Linked DNA regions of Homo sapiens: all the other regions are reported to be linked to region 1. Evidence: microRNA targets listed by miRTarBase, many of them from high-throughput screens and not tested one by one. Region 1 holds a microRNA gene; each other region holds the end of a gene's coding sequence.
What was found. The annotated mature microRNA hsa-miR-215-5p reads AUGACCUAUGAAUUGACAGAC and lies in region 1 at 2,872-2,892, opposite strand. An mRNA with a match to its seed (bases 2 to 7 or 8) in the 3' UTR can be bound and repressed. Matches are read on the target gene's strand: a 7mer-m8 pairs with bases 2 to 8, a 7mer-A1 pairs with bases 2 to 7 and ends in A, and an 8mer does both.

Region 2: miRTarBase lists UCK1 as a target of hsa-miR-215-5p. Seed matches in the 3' UTR shown: 7mer-m8 at 3,362-3,368.
Region 3: the mRNA of REXO5 is a reported target of hsa-miR-215-5p. The part of its 3' UTR that is shown has no 7-base or 8-base seed match.
Region 4: the mRNA of SLF2 is a reported target of hsa-miR-215-5p. The part of its 3' UTR that is shown has no 7-base or 8-base seed match.
Region 5: the mRNA of RDM1 is a reported target of hsa-miR-215-5p. The part of its 3' UTR that is shown has no 7-base or 8-base seed match.
Region 6: the mRNA of LARP1B is a reported target of hsa-miR-215-5p. The part of its 3' UTR that is shown has no 7-base or 8-base seed match.

What each region holds. Positions count from the first base shown.
Region 1 is chr1:220,115,045-220,119,133 of GRCh38, forward strand. MIR215 (microRNA 215) reads right to left here and starts at 2,918; the gene lies at 2,809-2,918. The region is part of intron 12 of IARS2 (isoleucyl-tRNA synthetase 2, mitochondrial); the gene reads left to right. MIR194-1 (microRNA 194-1) reads right to left here and starts at 3,197; the gene lies at 3,113-3,197. It overlaps LOC124904515 (a long non-coding RNA gene), which reads right to left and starts at 4,069. Exons shown (of 2, transcript XR_007066883.1): 1 at 3,941-4,069; 2 at 2,698-2,839.
Region 2 is chr9:131,521,430-131,525,518 of GRCh38, forward strand. UCK1 (uridine-cytidine kinase 1) reads right to left here. Exons shown (of 7, transcript NM_031432.5): 7 at 2,372-3,792. The coding sequence ends at 3,611. POMT1 (protein O-mannosyltransferase 1) reads left to right here. Exons shown (of 20, transcript NM_001077365.2): 18 at 1-43; 19 at 618-795; 20 at 1,503-2,370. The coding sequence ends at 1,677. Among named protein-coding and RNA genes, the nearest start is that of UCK1, 7.8 kb to the right of the region's middle.
Region 3 is chr16:20,849,120-20,853,208 of GRCh38, forward strand. It overlaps REXO5 (RNA exonuclease 5), which reads left to right. Exons shown (of 20, transcript NM_030941.3): 20 at 280-546. The coding sequence ends at 361. Among named protein-coding and RNA genes, the nearest start is that of REXO5, 45 kb to the left of the region's middle.
Region 4 is chr10:100,961,507-100,965,595 of GRCh38, reverse strand. It overlaps SLF2 (SMC5/6 complex localization factor 2), which reads right to left. Exons shown (of 20, transcript NM_018121.4): 20 at 462-3,719. The coding sequence ends at 3,684. Among named protein-coding and RNA genes, the nearest start is that of SEMA4G, 6.0 kb to the left of the region's middle.
Region 5 is chr17:35,914,622-35,918,710 of GRCh38, forward strand. It overlaps RDM1 (RAD52 motif containing 1), which reads right to left. Exons shown (of 7, transcript NM_145654.4): 7 at 3,459-3,822. The coding sequence ends at 3,721. It also overlaps the pseudogene LOC100133244 and the pseudogene LOC124903988. Among named protein-coding and RNA genes, the nearest start is that of RDM1, 14 kb to the right of the region's middle.
Region 6 is chr4:128,209,369-128,213,457 of GRCh38, forward strand. It overlaps LARP1B (La ribonucleoprotein 1B), which reads left to right. Exons shown (of 20, transcript NM_018078.4): 20 at 488-2,620. The coding sequence ends at 685. Among named protein-coding and RNA genes, the nearest start is that of PGRMC2, 76 kb to the right of the region's middle.

The sequences.
Region 1 (4,089 bases):
CCAGAACCTTTTTTTGAGGCAGTCATTGTTTACAGCTGTTTCTGAATCTTTCCAGAAAAAATGAATTCTTCTGTCAGCACATACATATGTTTATACAAAAGAGAGTATCTCTATCTTCTGCTCTGTGCCTAGATTTTTTTCACTTTATGTGTTATGATTTATTCCAAATCACTACACATAGATCAGCCTCATTCTTAAGCTTTATTAAAGCATACTTTACATACTATAAAATTCATGGCCAGGTGCGGTGGCTCACGCCTGTAATCCCAGCCCTTTGGGAGGCCGAGGCTGGTGTATCATGAGGTCAGGAGTTCAAGACCAGCCTGGCCAAGATGGTGAAACTCCATCTCTACCGAAAATACAAAAATTAGCCAGGCATGGTGGCGCGGGCCTGTAATCTCAGCTACTCCGAAGGCTCAGGCAGAGAACTGCTTGAACCTGGGAGGCAGAGGTTGCAGTGAGCCAAGATCGTGCCACTGGACTCCAGCCTGGGTGACAGAGTGAGACTCTATCTCAAAAAAATTAAAAAAGAAAAATTCATTTATTATAAGTGATTTATAGTAAATTTGTTAAGTTTTACAGCCACTATCATAATTGTGTCTTAGAATAATTCTTTTATCCCGAACAGCTCCCTTTTGTGCTTTTCGAAAGAGAAGTTGCTTGGAAATCTGTGAGCTTTGGAGAATGGCAACTGAATTTGAACCCAGGCTTTGCCATTCACTGTGTGTGAGACTGAGGAATTTACTTAGCCTCTGGCTCCTCTATAAAATAGGAAAAGCAATGGTTGCAGGTAGACTGTTATGAATACTAAATAATAAATGCAAACTACTTGGTGTAAAGCACAGTATTCCATAGATGATGAGCTATTCATGTATTCACTTAAGAAACATTGTTATGTGGGCACAGTGGCTCATGCCTGTAATCCCAGCACTTTGGGAGGCCAAGGCGGCAGGATTGCTTGAAGCCAGCTGTTCAAGATTACAGTGAGACCCCATCTCTACAGAAAAATTTAAAAATTAGCTGGTGTGGTAGTGTGGGCCTGTAGTCCCAGCGACTTGGGAGGCTAAGGCGAGAGGATCGCTCAAGTCCAGGAGTTTGAGGTTATAGTGAGCTATGATCATGCCAATGCACTCCAGCCTGGATGACAGAGCAAGACACTGTCTCTTCAGAACGAAACAAAACAGAACACATTGTCAAGCACTTAGTACGTGTCAGTGCTAGGAACTGCTAGTTGCTACAGTGAACAAGACTGACATGGCCCCTGTTTTTAATGAGATAATAGTCTAGCTAGTTTATCTTCTAGTAATATTAGGGAGGCTTTGAGTGTTGTTGCTGTTTTTCACAGATGTGGAGAGGGGAATGTTAATTCTTCCTTTTAGGAACACATTCCAGATTTTCATTTTCTTTGAGCAATTTTTTTTAATTTGGTGAATGGAATTTTTTCTAAATTATGCTATTAAGAAGTTTAAACTTTTAAGTAGACTTGAGGAGTAAGAGTATGTTTTAGGAAAAGAAAGTAGAGGCTAGAGACTGGAAAGTCATTGGAAAGCTATTTCAATATTATTATAAGTTGGATCTGAGGTAAGACTTTAGGAATAATCTAAATATTGTTGCTGTGGTGTTCTTACAGAGCTTGGTCAGATGTAAACTACTAATATCTTAATACTTACATTAAGAATTAATGTAAATTCTGTCCAGTTCAGATTATTTTATTTTATTTTTGATACAGTCTCACTCTGTCACCCAGGCTGGAGTGCAGTGATGTGATCTTGGCTCACTACAACCTCCACCTCCCAGGTTCAAGTGATTCTCCCTCCTCAGCCTCCTGAGTAGCTGGGACTACAGGCACGCGCCACTGACTTGGCTAATTCTTGTATTTTTAGTAGAGATGGGCTCTTGCCACGTTGACGAGGCTGGTCTCGAACTCCTGGCCACAAAGGATCCATCCACCTCTGCCTCCCAGAGTGCTGAGATTACAGGCATGAGCTACCATGCCCAGCCTCAGACTTAGTTTAAAAGAAAAAGAATTAAAGTGATTATACCTGAGACGAGTTTCCACAAACATTTGTTTAAAATTTCACACTGGAAAGTTTTTTTTTTTTTTGGAAAGTTTTATAAGCCATGTCATTGTCTCCTCTTCTTTTTTTTTTTTTTTTTTTTTTTTGAGATGGAGTTTCACTCTTGTTTCCTAGGCTGGAGTGTAGTGGCACGATCTCAGCTCACTGCAATCTCCGCCTCCCAGGTTCAAGTGATTCTCCTGCCTCAGCCTCCTGAGTAGTTGGGATTAGAGGCATGTGCCACCACGCCCGGCTAATTTTATATATATATATTTTTTAGTAGAGACGGGGTTTCTCCATGTTGGTCAGGCTGGTCTCAAACTCCCGACCTCAAGTGATCCGCCCGCCTCAGCCTCCCAAAGTGCTGGGATTACAGGCGTGAGCCACTGTGCCCGGCTACTCTTCTTTTCACTATTTAGAGAGCAAGATGTCTAGGGAATTTCACTGAAGTGATTGAGGTGGGTGGGGATTCCTTGGTGGAATAGCCCTCTGGACTCTGAGGTGGATCATATGTATGTATTAGTAAATATAGCAAACTGGTTTAATTGATACATCCTGATAATTAAATGGTACATAGGTTGACTGGTCAGTAAGTTAGGTTAAATAAATATGAGCTTTGTCAGAAAAACACAAGTTTTCATTAGGTATATTTATGTTTTATTTACTCAATACATTTACATGGTAGTGTTACAGATTATCTTCTGTGTACCTGCCATTGCGTTGGTTGCGTGGTGTTAGTCGATTTCTGATATTGAAGTAGCACAGTCATACAGAATATTGGCCTAAAGAAATGACAGACAAACTCAGCTATATTGTCTGTCAATTCATAGGTCATTTTCCTGTATACCATTTCTGAATGATGACTTTAATCCTCTTCCATTATTGGATCTTTTTGGTGTTACAAAACTTGAATTTAAGAAAATTGATATTAATTCTTAATCATTTGTTAATTTTATAAAACAGGCTGAAAATCTTTTTTTCTGCTGGAATCAAATGAGAGTCCAAGTGACCACAATTTTCTGTCTTTCTTTATTATACCTTTATATTGTAGCAAGTTGGTAACCATCAAAAGTAACAGCATCTCCACTGGAAATTGGTACACAGTCCACATGGAGTTGCTGTTACACTTGATAACACCATTAAACATATAAGGAGATTCCTTTTGCTCATCATGGGAGCTGTACGATATCTCTAAGTATACTTGTTTCACAGAAGAAAGTCTCGATTTATTCATGTTCTAAATAAGTTTAGGGACTGGTAGATTTGAAACGCTGATGTTTTATTTTGATTTGAATTAATAGTGTCATTTGCATTTTAGATCATATTTGTATTTTATCAAGAAATAATTCCATTTCTGACTTTACTGTCATTGGTCATTTTTTGAATCTGTGAGATAATGCCATTAGAATTTGGGTTGAAATCTGTTACTAGTCAATAAAAACAGAAGAAATAATTTTTAGCATAAAAAAGATAAAATGTAGAAACACTGGCTACCTGGGAAGGAAAAGAAGTTGGTTAAATTTCTTTCATCATTTCAAACAGTTATAATCACTTTCATGCTATTAATGCTATAGTTAACATAGTGAAACTTAGCCCCTAACTTCTGGAAATTATGAGAAATTTAGTAAAAATAGCCAAGGAATTTCCAATATAATTTGAGTGTTAACTTTAGCTACCTCAAATTTTTTCTCAGTTAACAATAATAAACCTTTTGTTCAAAAAATTTATGTTCATTAAATAAAGAAAAATTTCTTCAAAATGGTTTTCTGTCAGCTTTAAAACATAAATCTAGGATTAAACTAAAAATAGAATTTCCCCTTCCAAATTTCACATTGTTCTAGAATTAAATTTAGTAAACAAATGTGAAACATTTAGCCTCTTACCTCATTCTTCTTCCAGTAAGTTACAGAAGAAAAGTTGTCTTAATAATCTTCAATATTTTTGCTTATAAAGGCAAAACACAGAAGACAGTGGGATGACAGCAGTCGTTTCTTTGTTGCTTTAGTAATCTTAATGCTGCTTAATGTCCATA
Region 2 (4,089 bases), not on the chromosome of region 1:
TACCTGCTCCGACGGCGAAGAAATGTCCATGACCTCCCTCAGGGTTAGTACCTCTCCCACATGGCTTTCTTTCTTTTTAATATAGACATGGGGTCTTGCTGTGTTGTCCAGGGTGTTCTTGAACTCCTGGGCTTAAGCGATCCTCCTGCCTCGGCCTCCCATAGTGCTAGGATTACAGGTGTGCGCTGAGCATTCACCGCCTCAAGTGACAAACCGACTTCATAGGAACCTACCCCTTAACGCGGCCTCTTTGTTTCTGTATTGTGGAATCTTAAATTATGTTTGTCTCCCAAGAGACAAAATGTTAAGTTCCCATGTTGCGTTAGAGGTGTCTCCAGTCGAGTGCAGCGTATTGGGCAGGAATTGCCCTCTTGGTCCCATGTTGCCCGTATGCGCTGGAAATGGCTGGGTAACACAGGCAGCCAGGCCGGGCGCGGTGGCTTACACCTGTAATCCCAGCACTTTGGGAGGCCAAAGTGAGGGAGTCACCTGAGGCCAGGAGTTCAAAACCAGCCTGGGCAACATAGTAAGAACCCTCTCTCTAAAAAAGCAAAAGAGAGAGAAGACCCGGCCTGTGGGAGCAGCAGAGTCGGTGTAGCTCGAGCCCTTTCCTATAGATGCCTGGCTGCGCTGGGTGCTGGCTGGGGCGCTGTGTGCCGGTGGCTGGGCAGTGAACTACCTCCCGTTCTTCCTGATGGAGAAGACACTCTTCCTCTACCACTACCTGCCCGCACTCACCTTCCAAATCCTTCTGCTCCCTGTGGTCCTGCAGCACATCAGCGACCACCTGTGCAGGTACGGGGGCTGCGGAGACAGTGGCTGGACCGGGCAGCAGCCCTCTGCTGGGAAGCCCATGCGCAGCAAACACATGGGGTGCAGCGAACCTCACCCATTTCACGTTACACTGACATCCTCCGGGTCCCTCCGGGGAATGGGTGAGGTTCAGAAGAGATGCCCAGATGAGGCACTGCAGGAACCCAGAGGGAGAAGTCGCGGCTGACAGAGATGAAAGCGGAGTGGGTGGGGAGACGGGGAGGGGATGAAGAGATGTGGGTGGCCTGGAGGATTCGGGAGCAGGGAGCAAGGCCCAGGAGCCTGGGGTGTCAGAAACGGCAGCTGGTTATGGTCGGGTTGTGTGGTGTGGTGGAGAGAACCCAAGAAAGCTTCTAAACCAGAGTGTGTTTGGAGGTTGGAGCAGAGGGCGAGGGCCTCCCGGTTTCAGGAAGCCACACAAGGGAGGACCGTGGGTTTGGGACCAGTCCTCTGGCATCTGTGTGGAGGTGGCCCAGCCACTGTGGAGGCCTGAGGAGTCATCAGGGGGCCCCTCTCAGTGCATCCAGGTGGGAGATGGTCATGGGTGGCAGGAGACAAGACACAGAAACCTGAAGGCAGAACCCCAGGCCTCGGGGGGTGACCGTGTGGACAGCAGATGCCAAGAGGGTGCCGGGCAGGGAAGCCGCAGTGGTCAGCCACCCTCCCCCACGCTGCTCTGACCTCTGCAGGTCCCAGCTCCAGAGGAGCATCTTCAGCGCCCTGGTGGTGGCCTGGTACTCCTCCGCGTGCCACGTGTCCAACACGCTGCGCCCACTCACCTACGGGGACAAGTCACTCTCGCCACATGAACTCAAGGCCCTTCGCTGGAAAGACAGCTGGGACATCTTGATCCGAAAACACTAGAACAAGAGTGTGGCAAAGAACACCCGTGCTGGGGTCGGGATGAGGTTGAAGGGTCTTGGTCAATGTACGTAATGAGCAGGGTGGGCCCCACGCTGGGAGGACACGGGCTGGGCTGAGCAGGGCCTCTAGTGGAACACATGGGGGTCTCATTGAAAAGCTCTCTGATGAGCACCTCCTTTTGTGCAAAGTTAATTTTTTCTCGACAATAAAGATATTCCGTGTCTTTACCCCTGAACTAAGACACAGGGAGTATTTCAGAGGCCAGCGTAGGAGTCATTGACAACAAAAAGCCGAGAACCCAGGGCCAGCAGTGGAGCCTCAGCAGACCAGGGCCTGGTCCTTGCTAACTGCTGCAGGGTGGAGTTTGATCTGGCAGACCCGATCCTCCTTCATGAACACCCAGCAACCTGAGCAAGTCCCGGCCCTGCCCTCAGCGAGCCCGGCAGGCGTCCTGGGACAGCTCAGTGTTGGAGGGCCACCTGAACCACGAGCCAGGGCTGGGGCTTGCATGTCATTGTCTATGACAGCGTCAAGACTGGCCCTTGGCACCGTGCTGTGTGGAAACCCTCCCCTCTGAGACTCCACTGAGACGTGGCTGAGTGAAATCTTCCTCGTCAGTGGTCAAGGTGTGTCATCCATACAGCTCCATGCCTTTGTCTTTTTTAAATGTAATTAAAAAAGGAACCAACTGGCGTTTGTAGTTGGTGTTTGTTATTTATTGATTCTCCCTCCAAAGGGGCCTAAGCTCGACAAAACCGTTACAGTTGTCAGAACCCAGCCACAGGGCTCAGCCCCCTTCCCCCACGTCACGTCTGCATCACTACTGTGGGTGAGCCTGGACGGACGGGGGCTGGGGCTGCCCATGGCAGCGGCAAGGGATGCTTTCCAGAGACAGCCACCACGCAGGAGGGAGGATCACCCCAGGCAACCCAGACACGGGTGTTCACATGTGAGGCTGTGAGCTCCACATAGCACAAAGGAGGCTTGCTGACTTTGGGCGGCCATGTCTGCTGGGACCTGGGTGATCCAGTGCGTGCCACAGCCAGAAGCACCATTCCCTGCATATGGCCACTAGCCACCCTGGGGTGGGACAGCCTGTCTAGACAGACAGCACCTTGGGGGCTCCCCTGAGGGTCAGTGAGGGCCTGACCCCAGGCAGGACTGCGTGGACGCTGTTCTCCAGCCGGGACAGACCTGGCCTCCGCTGCCTTCTGCCCTACTGCATGGGCTCCCAGCCTGGCCCCGCACAAGCCTGGGTGTGATGCTGGGTGCTTCCAGGGCATCCGCCTCGCTTCTCTGCCTTTAAGGCACAAGCAAGGGGGGAAAACATCCCTCAGTGGCTCCCCATATCCGTGTAGGCCACGCTGGACTGCAAACCACTGGGTCATGAAATTAGGTTTGTAGGCCACAACCAGCCTTGTGTTATGAAACAGAAAACAGAAAACATGAGGACATGTAACATGTAAAAAAGGAAAGTACTTGTTCACAAAACTTTTGAGTTATGTGTGTGAGTGTGTAAGAACCAGATCAGACTGGAAAAAACTCTCTCCCACTGTGGGTTCACTGTCAACAAAACATCAGGCCAGCCAGTGTCTAGGCTGTCTCCTCAATTTCCCCAATAATGTGCCTCACATTCCTCACAGAAGCCTCCCAGGCTTCCTGCACATTCTGTGGCATTTCTCAGTGACCTAGAGGGATCTTTAAACCGCAACGAGCCTAAGTGGCTGAAAACCTCAGGAACGCCTGTCAGTGTCCCAGCAAGTTGAGTCTGAGTGACACATCTGAGTTTCCACTCCTGAGTGAGGAAGGCCTCGCTGCTAACACTCCCCTGGGGTGCGCCGAGAGGAAGCAGTGGGTGTGGGTGGGCGTCCCCAGGCTCAGTCCCTGAACACACATGCCGGGCGGGAGACCTGCCCTGAGGCTCGGCAGCCCCTCAGTGGGGTCTGCTGCTGGACTCCAAATGTGACCGTTTGCCAGAGGTCAGCATCCCAGGGTGGTCCCCTGGCTCAGAAAAGGTCCGCTTGTAGCTCCGCCCATTGGACCCTCCTCGGTGCCATTTGCAGATGTCACCATTCAGAATGTCCTGGATGTGCTGCACGATCAGGTTGATGGCAACTGCGCCAAGAGACAGACAAGCAGCGGGTTAGCCGCATCCATCCTCCGTGGAGACCGCCCCTCCCCGCAGCACTCGGCCAGGAGTGAGCGCCCAACCTCTGCCCTGAGGCACAGCCTGCGGCGAGGGGCATCGAGTCAAATCTCAGCAGACAGAAACATGCATCAGGACACAGCAAAATAAGACTTCTTAGCTTGGTCTTCCAGGAATTTATGTTAGAGTCTGCTTAAAGTACTTTCTGCTAACAGATTTGAATATACATATATATATGTTTTAAGAAACAGGTTCTTACTTTACTG
Region 3 (4,089 bases), not on the chromosome of region 1:
ACCAAATCCCTGTGAGATAGTAATTTAAATATTTCATAGTTTTATAGATATGCCTCATATCTCTTAATTGGTAAAGGTAGGATTTGAATCTAGACCTCTGAGACTCATCAGTGCTTTTTCCATTAAACCATCTTCAGCAGGCAGCTTTCCATAAACCTTCCTGCCCTTGCCCCATGGCACACACACATACTTGGAAAAATATCTCCTCTAACTAGGCATTTATAACCATTCATTCAACCTTATGGATAAAAACATACCTTTGTTTCTTATTTATTGCAGCACTCATGGTTCACTCTCTGGTCTAGGACTGATGGGAATAAAAGAGGAAGAAGAAAGCGCTGGCCCAGGCCTGTGTTCGTGAGTCGGCCTGCCATGTTTCCATGTGCCATTTCTTACCCCTTGTAGGCAATGGCAAAGAATGTGGTCAGGCTGTAGCCTCCCCAACCAGCAGACAGCTTTATGGAAACTTGGTATAGCAGCTAAAAGAGTTTAGTTTGTTTATATGGCATGTATAAGTTTTCAATAAATGCCTAAAGTTCAAGCATAGTATGGGGATGTCCACAGATTGTTTCTTTGTGTCATTGAGTTTATGTGCATAGGTGCGGTACAAGGTGCTCATTCCATGTAGCACCCCTATTACGTGGTATATACTGCTAAGGAAACCAAGAGGAGTGATTACTCAGAAAACCAGCCGATTATGCAATTTGTCAAAGTTGTAATGTCTGTGAAGCAAATTTCTTTAAACTGTTTTCTTATTGACAACTCTTAAAAAATTGAAGGACAATGATAGCTGAACTGAGAAATCTGGCAAGTCCACCAGGCAGTGGAGTGGAAGATTCTTTTAGTTTTTTTAACCAGCCCTGGAAACCCCTTCCATTCCACGTTTAGGAATCCTCCTTCCCTTCAGAACATGACTGCAGTGCCACCCTTCACCAGTAGGTGCCTCCATCACACCATCTCTCCCTCTAGGAACTGGAAACTTGAAATTCAGTAAAAGCCGTTTTAATCAACTCTCAAACTGATAACAATCTGTGTTGGAAAGGACATGGGGCATAGGCACCCAATTCCAAAACTACTAGAAATATTAACTGCCCTCCAGAAAAGATGAATCTGGCATACAGTATGTATCATACCCAAAAACCTCGTAAATTGCTCTGTACACTGAGACCCTGCAATTCTACAGCATTATCCTAGGATACTAGGATAGCTACACAAAAACATGTAATGAAGGAGCTATCAGAGGGTTATTACAATGGAGTTCTAGGTAGCCAGTTCTAATGTGTGTGTGAGAGAGAGTAAATAAAATCTTCGGTGAAAGAGATCTTCAAGAAGAGGCAGTAGACCTCTGGATCCAGAATGCTTGACTTTGAATCCCAGCTTTTTAAATTATTGTGTGAACTTGAATAAATTGCTTAACATTTCTGTGCTTGGGATAATAATGGTATGTATCCGAGAGGATTACAGATTAGTGAGATTATACATTCACAGTACTGTATATTATTTGTTGTATGAAGTCTGGAGGGATACAGAATAGCATGTAGTTTGAGTACACTTTTGTAGGAGAAAATATACAAAGCTATACATAGGCTTCTAACAAAACCTGCAAGGCTATATGCCAAAACGTTAATAGTATTTATCTATGGCTAGTGCCATTGACAAATCAGGTTTTAACAAATGCTTTTCTGTTGTAGACTCGATTTTTTTTAACATTCAACATATATTGCTTTTATAATTGGAAAATAATTCTTACCACCTGCTGTCAGGAGAAGAAAAGAAGAGAAAGATAATTCTACTTAAAATTAACTCTTAGGGTTGGGCAGTTGGAGCAGTGTTTAATCTTATAAATGTAGCTTCATAAGATCTGGTCCTATATGAAAGTTTAAATGTAGCTTCTGTAAGATCTGGCCCTATGTGGAACCAGAACTGAAGAGCTTGACTTGGGATCAGACACCGCAACTTGATTCAAGTCCCTTCATCAGGAGGAAAGTTCCCTAGGTGAATTGCCAACTTCCGCTGCAAGGCCCTGAGAACAACTTGAAACTGACAGTGTTGTTGGGTTCCTTCCTGCCCAGCTGAGCTCCAAAGCTGTGAGAGCTTAGCTGCTGTTTACCTCTTGAGGCTCAAGTCCTGAGAGATAAATTAAGTGTCTGCCTCGGATATGAAGAGGCCTGGGTTGGAGCTTCACCTCCCACACACACCTGAGTATTTTGGGGCAAGTCACTTAACCTCATTTGAGGCTATTTCCACAGCTGTATAAAATAAGGAAATAACTATTTTGATTATTGAGACATTTGTGGAAAATAACACAGTAATGCACTATGTGTGAATTAATTTCCCTCTCTGGGCCTGTTTCCTCACCTTTAAAATAGGGGAAATTAGTACTTCATAAGGTTATGAGGATTAAACTAGGAAAAGTCAAGATTGAGTGCTGAATAAATGACATACTATTTTACTAGGGATCATCTCCCTGTACCAAGAGCACTCCACTTGCTCTCAAGAATAGCCAAGGCCATCTTTTTCTTAGGAAAAAGGGTAGGGGTGGAGGTTTCCCCAGGGATCCAACTCCAGAACTCTGCAGAGATGGGCCTGCACTACAAGGCCTCTGAGACTTCAGTCTGCACACTCTGTTCTTTAGCCTGATGCTCCACCTTTTGGAAGCCAAAGCTGCCAACTTGGCCTCTTGCAAAACACACATTCCATTCATAAGTGCGTTTGTGCATTTTTCCTCCCACACCCTTCTAGGCAGCCAGCGCAGAGCTGCCAAGGCAGCTGCTGGAGAAGCAGCTTCTTATGGGGGAAAAGCAACTCCAAGGGCTTTTACAGAACTCATGGTTTAGGCTTTGAACACATTACTCCCATTTTCTGGTCTCCTTGACCATAGGGGGGGTTGTTCATTTCTTTTTGCCCCCCTTTTTGTAAATAACCTCTTCCCTATTAAAAGGAAACCTATTAATGAAAATTTGAAAAATACAGAAAAATTTAAATCACAACTGATCCCACCATCAACAGTCAATGACTGCCAATATTTTATAATCGATCAACTTTTTCCATGATGATAGAAATTCTATTATTCAAAAGCAGAGTTTTAATAGCTGTGTAATATTCTAGCATTGATGTATGCCATAATTTCTAAAACAGTCCCTTTTGTTGACCTTGGAAGTTGTTCCCAAATGATGCTGCCAGTGATATCCTTGCACATACATCCTTGGGAGATATTTCTTTTAGGAAAAGTGCCTAAGTGAAATTATTGGGTTAAAGAGTACGAACACATGCTTTTAACTCCAGAAAGGATTTTACTGTTTACTAGCATAGATTTCTTTCAAATTTTTGCCATTTAAAATTTTTCATTGTATATTTAATGTCTGCTTATTTGAATACCCTTTAGATTGGCATCCTGCTTTTTTTCCCAGAAGCTTTTTGGTAAATTATTTTTCCTAAGTGAGTTGTTCATATCCTTTGCCATTTTTCTATTGGGAAGCCAGATCCTTTTCCATACTGAATTTTTAAGAGCGCCTTATGGATTCACTATATATAGTGTCCATTTACAAACTATTACAAAATTTTAGTTTGCTTTTTAAGGTATATCATTTTATGTTTAGTCTTTTGTGATTTCCTCTATTTGCTTTTATGCTTAGAAAGCCCTGACTGATCTCTGGATCCAATGACAAGTTTATATATTTCTAATGATTTAATGTCTATACTTCATAGCCTTATTTTTCTTGGAATTTATCTTGGCATGTAATAACTTTCTCCCAAATATTTAGATAATTTTACCCAATTATCTAGCTTTACTTACCCAATAAAGGAGGATGCTCCTTTATCATTTAAGTCCATGTGTATACTAGGGCCAGTATTCATGTTTTCTTCTGTCTTGTCATGTAGTAGTACCACACTATTGTGTAGCTCTATGATGTACTAGCAGTTTTAGCAGCATCACCCCAGATAAACACAGGGCCCATGGAGAGTCTCCATCAGCATGGATTACAGAACACTGTAGAGTTAAGATGCTTCGCTGCTGACTGCACTGGTGCTGCTACATTCCACCAGGACTTTTTCAGCACCCCTGAGTCAAGAGACGGGACAAGGGTC
Region 4 (4,089 bases), not on the chromosome of region 1:
GGGCTCAAGAACAAGGGAGTCAGGTTAAGGGTATTTGTTTCTAATTCTCTTTGCCCAAGAACAGAAAGTATTTTAACCTGGATACCAGGAGGTAAGATTCATGAGTTCTCTATGTTGTTCACCATCAAATCCTTACTGAATCCTAAAAAGAGTGCCTAGTATGTAGTTGAGACTCAATTGTTAGAATGAATGGTGGAATGAACATAGTGAATGAGGTAAGAATGAGATTACTGAATTCCTGATTGCAAAGTATACAGCAATTAACTGGGTTATATAAAAGTGAACTGTGTACAATGGTGGCTTTATGTTTTCCAGAAACAGGAGACATCAAGCTAAAAAACTGGACAATCCAAAGCAAGAAGAAATGTTTAAAAGCCAGGGGACTGGGGTGGGCTGAGGGAACAGGGCATTCCAGATAACTTAGCCTCCCCAACTCCCAAACAAATATTACCAAACACATGTTCAAACTGAGAAAAAGCAGTTTTAATAGCACACACACACACACATTCATAGGACTTTAACAAGATGTAGTATAAAATCTTTAAAAAAAAAAAAAAGGAAAGAAAAAAATCTGTATTTACTTCCTAAGAGCTGGTGGATTAACTGGCTGACAGGACTGCCCAGGAAAAACAAATGCACAGATAATGAGGTGCGCCGACACTGTTCATGAGTAAGGAATAACCATGGATCATGCTAACTGCTCTACGTGCCCCGCCGCCTGGACCCTACTGTTGCCTCCTTAGCGACAAACCACCACAGTCATCCCCTAATTCTCCAACTCAGTAGCTTGTTTAATGGGCTACCTCTTAAAATTTTCATTTTTAATTTAAAAATTACTCTTGGCTTAAAGACGCCACACATTATTACTGGCCAGTCCCCACCAATTATATTTGTTTTGATAAAAATAAAAATGCAAATACTCCAACTAAGCCTGGATGATAACACGCCATTTTGTATCTTTTACATTTGAGGAGATTTTTGTGAAGCTGAAAGCAAGCTACTATTTGCGCTTGAAAGCAGAAACAAAATGCAAACCTTCCAAAAGGTGACAAAGGCACCACTGCCATCAGGAGATAGAAAATGTACAAATGCTGTTACTTTACGGCTACATCAATGCATTTTGTGCATGGAGAGCCTCTTAATGTGATAAAACTAGTAGAATTATATTTTCAGTAACAAGAAAAGCAGTTAGAAAAGGCAAACAGTTACACACAAAAGCATAAACACTTACAAGTACCTTAATGTGCAGCTTGCAAGAAGGGTAATAAGTTTGCCATACATATCCATAAAATTAGACAAGGTGATTTTTGGCACAGTAATATTGCCAAACACACCACCACTCAGTGCAAGCTTCGTTTGCCAAGTCCCCAAAGTGGCCTGACATTCTCTGTGCAATGAACATTTCTCCCTCTCTACCATCCCATTCACCGGGCAATAGCAGCAGGAGGGAGACAAAGCATGGGGACTCAAGGGAGAAGTAAAATACTTGATTTGGAAGAAAAACCATGGGCTACTTGTGCTAAAAGAGAGTCACAAAGTTTTCATGAGAACCCAAATGCAAATACTGACTGGACTATGACCTGGAGTCTGAAGACCTCTACCAGAGTCATAAATACAAGGGCCTAAACTGAGGTCTGGCCATTTATTTTAGAGGGACCATGAAGTATTTTTTTTCTAAAGGAGAAATATAATTAAAAATAGAGATTTTTTTCTTATTGGAACTGTTAAATAAAAATGTATCAAAGTGGTTTTAAATTTGATGGACAGTTATCTGTTGAAACTGCAATACAAAAGGGTCATTAAAAAAAAACCTGAATAACCCACTTGTCCCCCCCATCAATGTACACAATTAGAAAATATTTACACACTGTAAATTACAAGCAATATAAGCAGTATTTTATACTTTGAGATTTTGTACACTTTACACAATGCAAAATGAGAAAAATATGAACACGTATAAAATTACACACAAATAATGTATCTACAAAGGATTAAATTACAGAACGAAAGCCCCCATCGTTGGGCAGATAGATGCCAGAGTTTCAAGCTTCTGTCAAATAGAACTCTTTGTATCTATCTCTTTAACCATAAGTGGCATTTTGTAACAATACCCTTGAGAGGTAGTATCAAGATAATAATATTCTTACCAGTAAACAACACAGAATAAAACTTTTGTTGGTCTGACTCTTGGAGCCTCAATCAGTTTAGGTTCTTGGAAACTGGATTTACTTAGTCTTCCCTATAAAATCTCTGACTGCCAATGCTTGATTGACATGAGCTCAAAAGTTACTGATGCTATTTTAAATGATAAATTTAGGACAAAATGCTTTTTACTCCTAAGCCTCAATTTAGAGGTAGAAAGTTATTTTATTTTCTTGCCTCTCAAACCGCAAACATCAAGTCCAGTTTCTGTTCCCCTCCATCATCTTTCCCCCCCACAACTGGAGACACTAGAGCACTCAGGAGAACAGGTCACTCAAGCCAATACTGAAAGAACAACAAAAAAAGTTGGCATTCTTTCAGGAAACAAACCCTCCTAAAAGGGACATCTCGTCAACAAAATAATTTTCTAGTTGGCTAGTAAGAGTTTGTTACTACCCCTGGGCTAAAAACAACGTGTGCACTTCCACTAACCCTCTACCATTTAAACCAAAGGATGGCTCTCCAGTGTTTAAGAATTTACAGCAGCTGTGGTTTTGAAGTGCAACAACTTCAAGATACAAGCGCACACACACACACACACACACACACACATACACAGACACAGTGTCCCAAAGAATTCAGGTGTCTGCCAAAATTATATACTCATGGAAACAAGGTTGTTGGAAACTTGTCCAGATCTTTAGGCTTTTACAATATAGACTTCTGTAATATGGTTACCAAGAGCCAGAATTCTAAGATATAGCCAAGATTCTAAGATTTAACCAGTATTTAAAATACATGCATTTAAAAGAAATCCAGAACAAACAGCATATGAATGTTCTGGCATCAAAACAGGGCCACTACTTTACAGCTTAACCTCTTCCTCTTAAGGGGATCTGACAACATGCCAAACTTTTGTTTCTCAACTGTTTGTTTAGATGTATTTTAAAAACAGATTTATAATCTTGAGTAATGAAGGAAAATGCATGGATTGAAACCTCCCTGTGGTTTATAAAAGTTACAGAAGAGATTTATGCTTTTTATTACTAAACTCAGTTTTAAGCATTCCCTTTGTGTCCGAAAATAACCAAGAGGGAAAATTAAACCCAACTGGAACTTGGTCTTGCTTTCCATGTCCAACTTCTCAAGTTAGTCCAAGCTCTTTTCTTATATATTTCCTGTGATTATCCAAGTGACAAAAATACTATCTAAAAAAGATAACTGGCTTATAATTTAACAAGAGGAGTTAACTGGGGCAGGTTAGACATATGACTATTATTCTGCTTCTACCCCTCCCCTCTTTTAATAAGACTCTGCACTTTTGAAAGGTCAGTTGCCTTAACAATTAAGCAGATCATATTTCATATCTGCTTCAGAAATGGCAATTTCTTCATTACCAGCTTCATACTAGATATTCAAGTGGCACATTTGCTGTACATTTTCTTGGCATTCATTGGATTCTGTAATAATCCTTTCTACTCCTCTATGAAAGGCTCTTATTGAATTTCTCTTGGTTCATATTTTTGCTGCTGCAACTCCTATTAAGAATCTGGTACCCAGAAGTCATGAAGCTGCCCCTAAAAAAGGGAAGGAGAAAAAAGAGGGTAAAGCAAAATTTAATCATATTATGAATTAATCCTTATAAAACTACTAATCATCAGACAATGGGCTTTGATAAGACAAGTAATAAAATCTTTATATTGACTTCTCTGAAAATTTATGGTAATCAGATTCAAATTTCACATTCAGTAGTCAAACAACAAAAAACAGTAAAAAATAAGTGCAGGATGTTTTTCTCACCACTGCACACATGGAGGGGCTTAGTTAAGCAGATTAAATAATGTTAAGCTGATTAGTATAGTTTTGCTATTAAATTATTTTCTGTTTTAATACCACATCAGTACATGACCAGCATTAAAAGAAAATCTATTAAGGTTAGAAACAAAT
Region 5 (4,089 bases), not on the chromosome of region 1:
TGGCTCTAAAAGCTGAGTTGAGGCCTGCTGTAGGACTGAAGATGGTTTGACCTTCTCAGGTGGCTGATGGCTGAGCTGGTATCTCCAGCTATGGTGGACTGACCTCTGCAGTGGACTTTGGAGGATGACCTGAGGCTTCCTGCTGGGTTGCAGTGGTTCAACCTCCTTAGGGAGCTCTGGTGCCTCAGCTGGGGACTCTTGCTGGACTGGAGAAAATCCACCCCTTTAGGGGAATCTGGGGTCTGAGCTGTGGCCTCTTGCTGTGATGGAGATTCAATCTTTTCTGGAGAATCCAGAGGTGGGGAAGGGGTATCATGCTGGGTTGGAGAAAAGTCAGCCTACTCAGTGGGAATAGGAGGATTGTCCTGCTGGACTGGGGAAGGTTCAACCTCCATAGTGACTTCTGTAGGTATGGTGAGGTCCATATCCATATTTTTAAATGTGGTATTAGGGAAAGTTGAATTATTTCTGAATATTAAAGATAGATCTAGAGGTGAAAATACCATCTCATCATTCAATGACCTTACAAAGTCTGAGCTGGTGACTGAGTTGTGGGCTCTTGAGGGACTGGAGGAAGTTCATCATTTTCAGGGGTATTTAGCTGCTGAATAATCATTTCTTGCTGGTCTTTCAAATGCTGAAACTGCTAAGGGGACATTGAGGACTGAGCTGGGGCCCTGTGTTTGGTTAAAATTTCAACCTGTTAGGTGAACTCTGGAGTCATGGTTACCATGTGATCCACAGGTTTCACAGTGTCATTGTGCAATGTTGGAGGCTGAACTTGATCATGACTTAGAGAAACTGTTACCTCATGATGCACTGGAGATTAGCTATAACTTCAATAGGGATCTCTGAAGGCTGAGCTGGGGTCTATTGCTGTGTTGGAGAAGACTCAACCTCCTCAGGCATCTGTGGATACTCAGCAGCAGCCTTCTGCTGGGCTGGAGAGAGGTTCTCATCTTTAATAGCTGGAGATTGAACTGAAGTCTCCTGTTGAACTGGTAAAGTCATCTTCTGATGACTATGGAGGCAGAGTTGGGCCCCCGTGCTGGGTCATGGAAGGTTCCACATCATTAACTGCCCCTGAGAGCTAAGCTGTAGCCTCCTGGTGGATTGGAGAAGTTCCCACCTCTGCAGTAGGCTCTGTTGCTATGGTGAGCTGCATAACTGGAGGCTTAACAGTGACAATGGGCAAATCTGAATGCTGAGCTTTATGGTGACCTGGAGGTGAAACTTTTACTTCATGATGTTCTGGAGGCTGAGCTGGGGTCTCGTGCTGGGCTGGAGACGATTCAACCTCCCCTGAAGACTCAGAAGTCTGAGCTGTCTGTTCTTGCTCACTCGGGGGAGATTCATCCTCCACAGGACTTGGAGCCTCAGTTAAATCCTGTTGGTTTGCAGAAGTTTCCACTCCCTCTGGAGGCTGGGTTGGGACCTCCTGCTGGGCTGCAGAATATTTAGTCTCTTTGATAGGCTCTGAAGTTATGGTAATCTCTACATCCACAGGTTTAACTGTCATTTGTATAATGAGCTTGATCCTCACCCTGAGTTTGAACTGTCACCTCATAATTCAGTGCAGTTTGATATGCACTCTCCATAGAGAACTTTGGAGGCTGAGCGGTGGCCTCCTGCTGGGTCTGGGAAGGTTCAACCTCCCCAGGAAACTCAGAAGGCTGAGCTGGCTGTTCCTGCTCACTTGGAGAAGGTCTGGCCTCCATAGGAGGAACTGGAGGCTCAGCTGGGGTCCTGTGCTGGGTTGTAGATTTCATCTCCTCAGGGCACTCTGGTGTCTAAGCTGGGTCCTCTAATTGGGTTGAGGAAGGGTCCATCTTCTCAGGGTGCTCTGGAGGCTGAGTTGTGGCCTGTTCCCGGCTTGATGTAAGTTTCTTATCTGGCTTTGGACTTATTGTAAGCTCCAAATCCACAAGTTTGACTGTTACATTGGGCAAGTGTGAGTGATGAGCTTCACTCCAACTTTTTTTGTTTGTTTGAGATGGAGTCTCACTCTGTCGCCCAGGCTGGAGTGCAATGGTGCAATCTCAGCTCATTGCAACCTCCACCTCCCAGGTTCAAGCGATTCTCCTTCCTCAGCCTCCTGAGTAGCTGGGATTACAGGTGCTCACCACTACACCCAGCAAACTTTTGTATTTTTAGTAGAGACAGGGTTTCACCATGTTGGTCAGGATAGTCTCGAACTCCTGATCTCAGGTTATCCACCCTCTTTGGCCTCCCAAAGTGCTAGGACTACAGGTGTAAGCCACTGCACCTGGCCTCACTCCAACTTTTTAATGCAACATTTACCTGATAACGTATTCATAACTGAGCTACAATCTCTTCAGGGCAGGTAGCAGCTGTGTTGGGGCCTCCTGCTCTGTTGAAGAATGGACCCCCTTAAGGGACTGAGAAGGAAGAGCTGGGGCCTCCTACGGGGTTGAAGAAGTTTCTACGTATTCAGGGACCTGTGGAAGCTGTGCTGGGGCTTCTTGCTGGAGTGAAGATGACTGGATCTCTTGGAGGGTCTGTGGATTTTGAGTTTCGGGCTCTAGATAGAATTGGCAAAAGTCCAACTTGCTCATGGGGCCCTGGAGGCTCATCTTTCACCTGGACTTCTGGAGGAAGGCTGCCCAGATACAGTATATCCATACCTGAATCTAAATACTAAATGCTTGTAAAGTTTGTTTCTGACACTGAGGTTTTGATACAAATCGGTGTGGAGTTCCAACAACAACCTTAGCAAGCCTCCGATGCTTAGGTAGATCTTTCTTCTTCAGGTTTTTGGGTGAAACACTAATCTTCATTGCTTTTGAATTCTGACTATCTAGAGGTGGAACAAGTATTTCATATGCCTAATGATCTGCAGCCTGATCTAGACTTACAGTTTGAACCTTACTTTTGAGGCAAAGAGGCCGAGCTACCGTCTGGTTCTGATCCCAGTCTAGCATTGGAACCAACTCTGGGAGCCTTTCTTGTGAGTCAGCTTATCATTCAGATCCTGGTGTGCAACAGCGAACTTCTCTGGCCCCAGGGGCAGCTCTCCAGCTGAATCTGTGTCCAGAAATGGAACCAAAGTCTCAGTCGGTTCCTGAGGCGAGGCTGACATCTGGGTGGCAGTAGAGGACCTCAGGTTATCAAAGCTCCCGGGTCTGTATGGGGGTGGGGGTGGATAAACGCATAGGGAGGTTCCGGGGGGAGATCGGAGGAGCGCCAAGCCCAGGGCTCAGTTGGCCTCAGGGGGTCGGAGGTCAGCTGGAGTGGGCCCTGGACCCACTCCAGAGGCTGAGCCTCCTGGACTAGTAGTCACAGTAGTTGTCACGTGAGGAGGGGCCATAGGGACCAGAGACGCAGCCGGTACATGACAGAAGTTGGCGTCCCGCACTGAGCAGAAGCCATTATGGCAGCCACCAGATGCCCGCGCCCTTAGCAACCGCGGCCCCGCCTCGTCCGTTATTTACCATATCTTTATCTAGGCAACCTTTATTAAGTTCCGTTCGAGATCCGCTCCTCGTCACCAGGGCGATCTTATCCCACAATCCTACCCAAGCCTCCCTTCCCACTCCACCAGAACACCCCTTCCCTCCCCTTCGCCAGGAAAGATTTGGGCGGCCGACCCAGGTGGTTCCAGGACTCCAGCAGCCTATAGTGGTGGGGCGGCGTGGGGTAGGGGCACGACAGAGCTTCCCAAGGAAGTTACATGACCTCGCCTTGGGATATTCAGAAATGCTAGTCAAGTTCTGGCAGCCTGAACTCTTCCTCCTCCAAGCTGAAATCCGAGAGATACCCTTCCTCCTCTTGGCCATACTGCTTCCAGGGAGAGCAAGGGACCTGCAAAATGTGCGCTAGTTAGGGTGGCAGGCAGAACGCACATTACGGTCATTCATTCCAAAATGTTGCCGTTTTTGCTAAACTTTCCATATCCTTTGTTGCATGTTTGATAATTCACCACTCTATTAGGTAGGGGCTGCCAGGGAATAAGTGAAGACTCCAAATTTTCTGTAGGAGGGGTTTTGGGAGGTGGGCAATTCAGTCTGGGAGAGAAGTTTGAACTGTCATCCTGCCTTGACTTAACACAGCCATTACCCTAGAAATTAC
Region 6 (4,089 bases), not on the chromosome of region 1:
CGATGTGGCACCACTGCACATCAGCTTGGGCTACAGAGTGAGACTCTGTCTCAAAACAAAAACAAAAAACAAGCAAACAAAAAAAACACTCGGGCTACAGAGTGAGACTCCGTCTCAAAAACAAAAAACAAAAACCACAAACATATGTTGAGTAAAAGAATGAGCAAATACTAGTAGGCTGATTTAGTTAGGAAGGAAATTTAAGTTTAGTACCTTAAGTTGCTGTTAAGTTTTTGTTATACTAATACAATCTGTGAGGCGGAAGAATGGCGTGAACCCGGGAGGCGGAGCTTGCAGTGACCCGAGATCGCGCCACTGCACTCCAGCCTGGGTGACAGAATGAGACTCCATCAAAAAAAAAAAAAAAAAAAAAAATTATACTGAAGTGTCCATTTAACTTACTTTTTTGGGGAAAAGTCTAGCCTTAGATTCTGAAGGGAGGAAAAACAGTAAAATTGTCAACGGTGTTGCCTTTCATCATTTGCAGCCCCCTATTAGTGATGAATTTGGAAGAAAAAGACATTCCTCTACTTCTGGTGAGGAGAGTAATCGTCATAGACTTCCACCTAATTCCTCTACAAAGCCACCAAATGCTGCTAAACCTACATCTACCAGTGAGCTTCAGGTACCAATAAACTCTCCCAGAAGGAATATTTCACCGGAGTCCAGTGACAATTCACATTAAACAGTGCTGCCTGTGTCCTGTGGTCTCAAGAAATGGTGAAATGCCTGAGAAATAGACTCTTATGAAAGTTCTTTGTCCTTGAAGTCAACATTTACATCAGTATTTATTTGGGGAAAATCTTCTGGTGTTTAATTGTGATAATAAGAAAGAAGAAAAAGAAAGAAAAGTGGTAGCATTTTTTCTAACAAGATAAATTCTAAAAATGTTTTCCCTGATTTCACAAACAAGGATAGTCTTGGTGACCTTTTATAGAGATCTTCTAGTAATGTATTTTGATCTCAGATTTCTTTTTCAAAGCCATGGTTTTACAAAAACAGCATTCCTTAAATATATTTAAAAAACAATACAAGGAATGCCTAACATTTCAGCTCATACTTCTTAAAGAAGATATAGTATGTTGTATTCTCTTCTTAGAGCTTTCTTAAAGAATCCACAATCCAATTACCCCACTGTCAATTCATATTTGAACTTACCAAAACAAAGGAGGATTACGTATATGTTTTTTAAATTCAAAAAAGAATATGAAATTATACCTTTAGTATCCCTTTGAGACATATAGTTTAAAGAAAACTTTTTTTAAAACAAAAGTAGGAATATATAGTAAGATTGTAGTTACAATGAGTATATGCACTTTTGATGCTAGGTTTTGCTTTTCTCCCCCCAGTCATATCTCATGATTTCCACAGTTGTTGTATTGGTGTGGAGTTTTCTGAATTGGCTATAAGCTGATTACATATTAGAGGTTTATTTTTATGATTCTATATAAACGTGCACGAGTAATTTAAAACCTGCATTGGGATTGATTGGAATATTGTCCTAAATTAATTAAATCTTGCACTGTTTTGAATGCATCTGCTATTTATACATCTGCAAGTGGGTATGTCATAAGGAGTCAGATTATCTTTAATTTAAAATGAATACTTAGTTTTACCTTTTTGTTTATTTTTTGTTTAATTTTGTTTTTATAAATGTTTTCAAGAGTTATAGCAAATTGATTTCTAATTTTTATTGCTATTACAACTGATGTAAATGGTAGTTTCAGTTTTTGTGAGATTTAAAAAAATAAAGCACTTATTCTGAATTTTTTGAATTGATTTTTAATTATTTTTATTTAGAATATAGTTGAAAAGCTGTAATATTCAGTTTTGCTAGTAAAAGACCATTTTTTTGTGTGAATGAAGTTTCAATTATAAACTTACATTCACTTTATTGAGCACTACATAATTTACAGATATTTTGTTGTATTGGCAAAAGCAAGTGGTTTCCATATGCTAAATTAATTGTATTTTCTTTTTGAGCAGATTGGATATCTTGTTCTTATAAATTATAATATTGAAATACATATAATCTTTGGATGGATGGGCTGTTAATTTGTAAATAGGTTTTCATTAAGTTATTTCTCATGATAAGTAATAATCAGCAGTTTTATAATATTTACTATTTGGAGGGTCATTTTGATGCTTTAAATTGCAGAAATAGTCAAATTTGAATATTCAGAAAATAAATTTATTTAGATATATTGTAAAGAGGGTGCAAAACAAGCAATGGGTTAGAATAATAGATCTTCAAGTCTTTTCTTAAATGGGGTATGTAGTTCCAGCTTTTCAGTGAGAAATTTCCAAACCGTGCTTATTAGCTTTAAATGGTCTCTTGAAATGATCATAAATTTTTCTCAGTGTCCTTTTTGTGTTGAACACATATATCTGAAACCTGTATTTAACCAGATATTTCTACTCAACTGAATATACAAGTGTAAATTTGATTGGAAAATTGTATATTATAAATGAAAATACAATAATCAGGAGTTTTGTGGTTTGTATTAATTAGTAGTTTTATCATATTTTTATTATAAAAGTAATACATGTACATTGGGAAATTTAGAAAAGCACAAAGAAGAAAATAAAGTACTTGTTATAAAAAGAAGAAAAACCAAAATTGGTGTCAGGCTATATATAGTGTTATAACCTGCATTTGTCACTTAATGGAGTTGAACATTTTCTGATGTCATTAATATTTCTCATTACTTTTTTTTTTTAAATTGTAGAGATGGGGTTTCACCATGTTGACCAGGCTGATCTTGAACTCCTGGTCTCAAGTGATCCACCTTCCTCGGCCTCCTAAAGTGCTTGAATTACAGGCATGATGAGCCACCGTGCCTGGCCAGTGATGTCATTAATATTTCTATTTCATGGCTTTTACTAGTTACATAGTATTCCAGTGTGTGAATATGCCGAGTTTACGTAGCTAACTGCTGACTGTTGAACTTTGGCTGTGGCTAGGTTTTAGCTGTTACAAACAACAATTAATAGGCTGGGCATGGTGGCTCATGCCTGTAATCCCAGCACTTTGGGAGGCTGAGGCGGGTGGATCACTTGAGATCAGAAATGCGAGACCAGCCTGGCCAACATGATGTGAAACCCCATCTCTACTAAAAATACAAAAAACTAGCTGGGCGTGGTGGTGCATGTCTGTAATCTCAGCTACTGGGGAGGCTGAGACAGGAGAATCGCTTGAACCCAAGAGGCAGAGAGGTTGCAATGAGCCGAGTCCGCACCACTGCACTCCAGCCTGGGCGACAGAGTGAGACTCTGTCTCAAAAAAACAAAAACAAAAACAAAAAACAAACAAACAACAATGAATAGTATCCTTACAGATAAATCTTTGTGTATAAAAGAGTTACTGTCAAGAACTCCTAGAAGTTGGAACTCTAAGTAAAAACGTGTCTCCATTTAAGACCTCTAGGAAGGTTGCACAGTTTACACTTTTATCAACATCTGCTTCCCTACATCCTTATCAACACCAATTATGATAAATCTTTCTCTTTAGACTGATAAGCAAAAAATCATTTAAATCTCTCTCTTTTTTTTTTTTTTTTTTTTTTTGAGATGGAGCTTTGCTCTTGTTGCCCGGGCTGGAGTGCAATGACGCGATCTCGTCTCACTGCAACTTCCACCTTCCAGATCCAAGCAATTCTCCCGCCTCAGCCTTCCGAGTAGCTGGGACTATAGGCATGCACCACTATGCCCGGCTAATTTTGTATTTTTAGTTGAGATGGGGTTTCACCATGTTGGCTAGGCTGGTCTCGAACTACTGACCTCAGGTGATCCACCTTGGCCTCCCAAAGTGCTGGGATTACAGGTGTGAGCCACTGCGCCTGGCCACTAAATCTCATTATTAATGTCACCATTTTAATCATTTTAAATGATTTAATCATTTTAATCATTTTAAATAGTGACCATTTTAATCAGGTCACTAATGAGCAATAATTTTTATTGCTTATTAACCATATTGTTTGTAGATTGCTTGAAAATACCCCTTACGTTTTCCTTTTGGAGTGATTATCTCTTTCTGATAAATTTATGGAGTGTTTTCACTTATCAAGAATATTAACCCTTTGCTTTCTA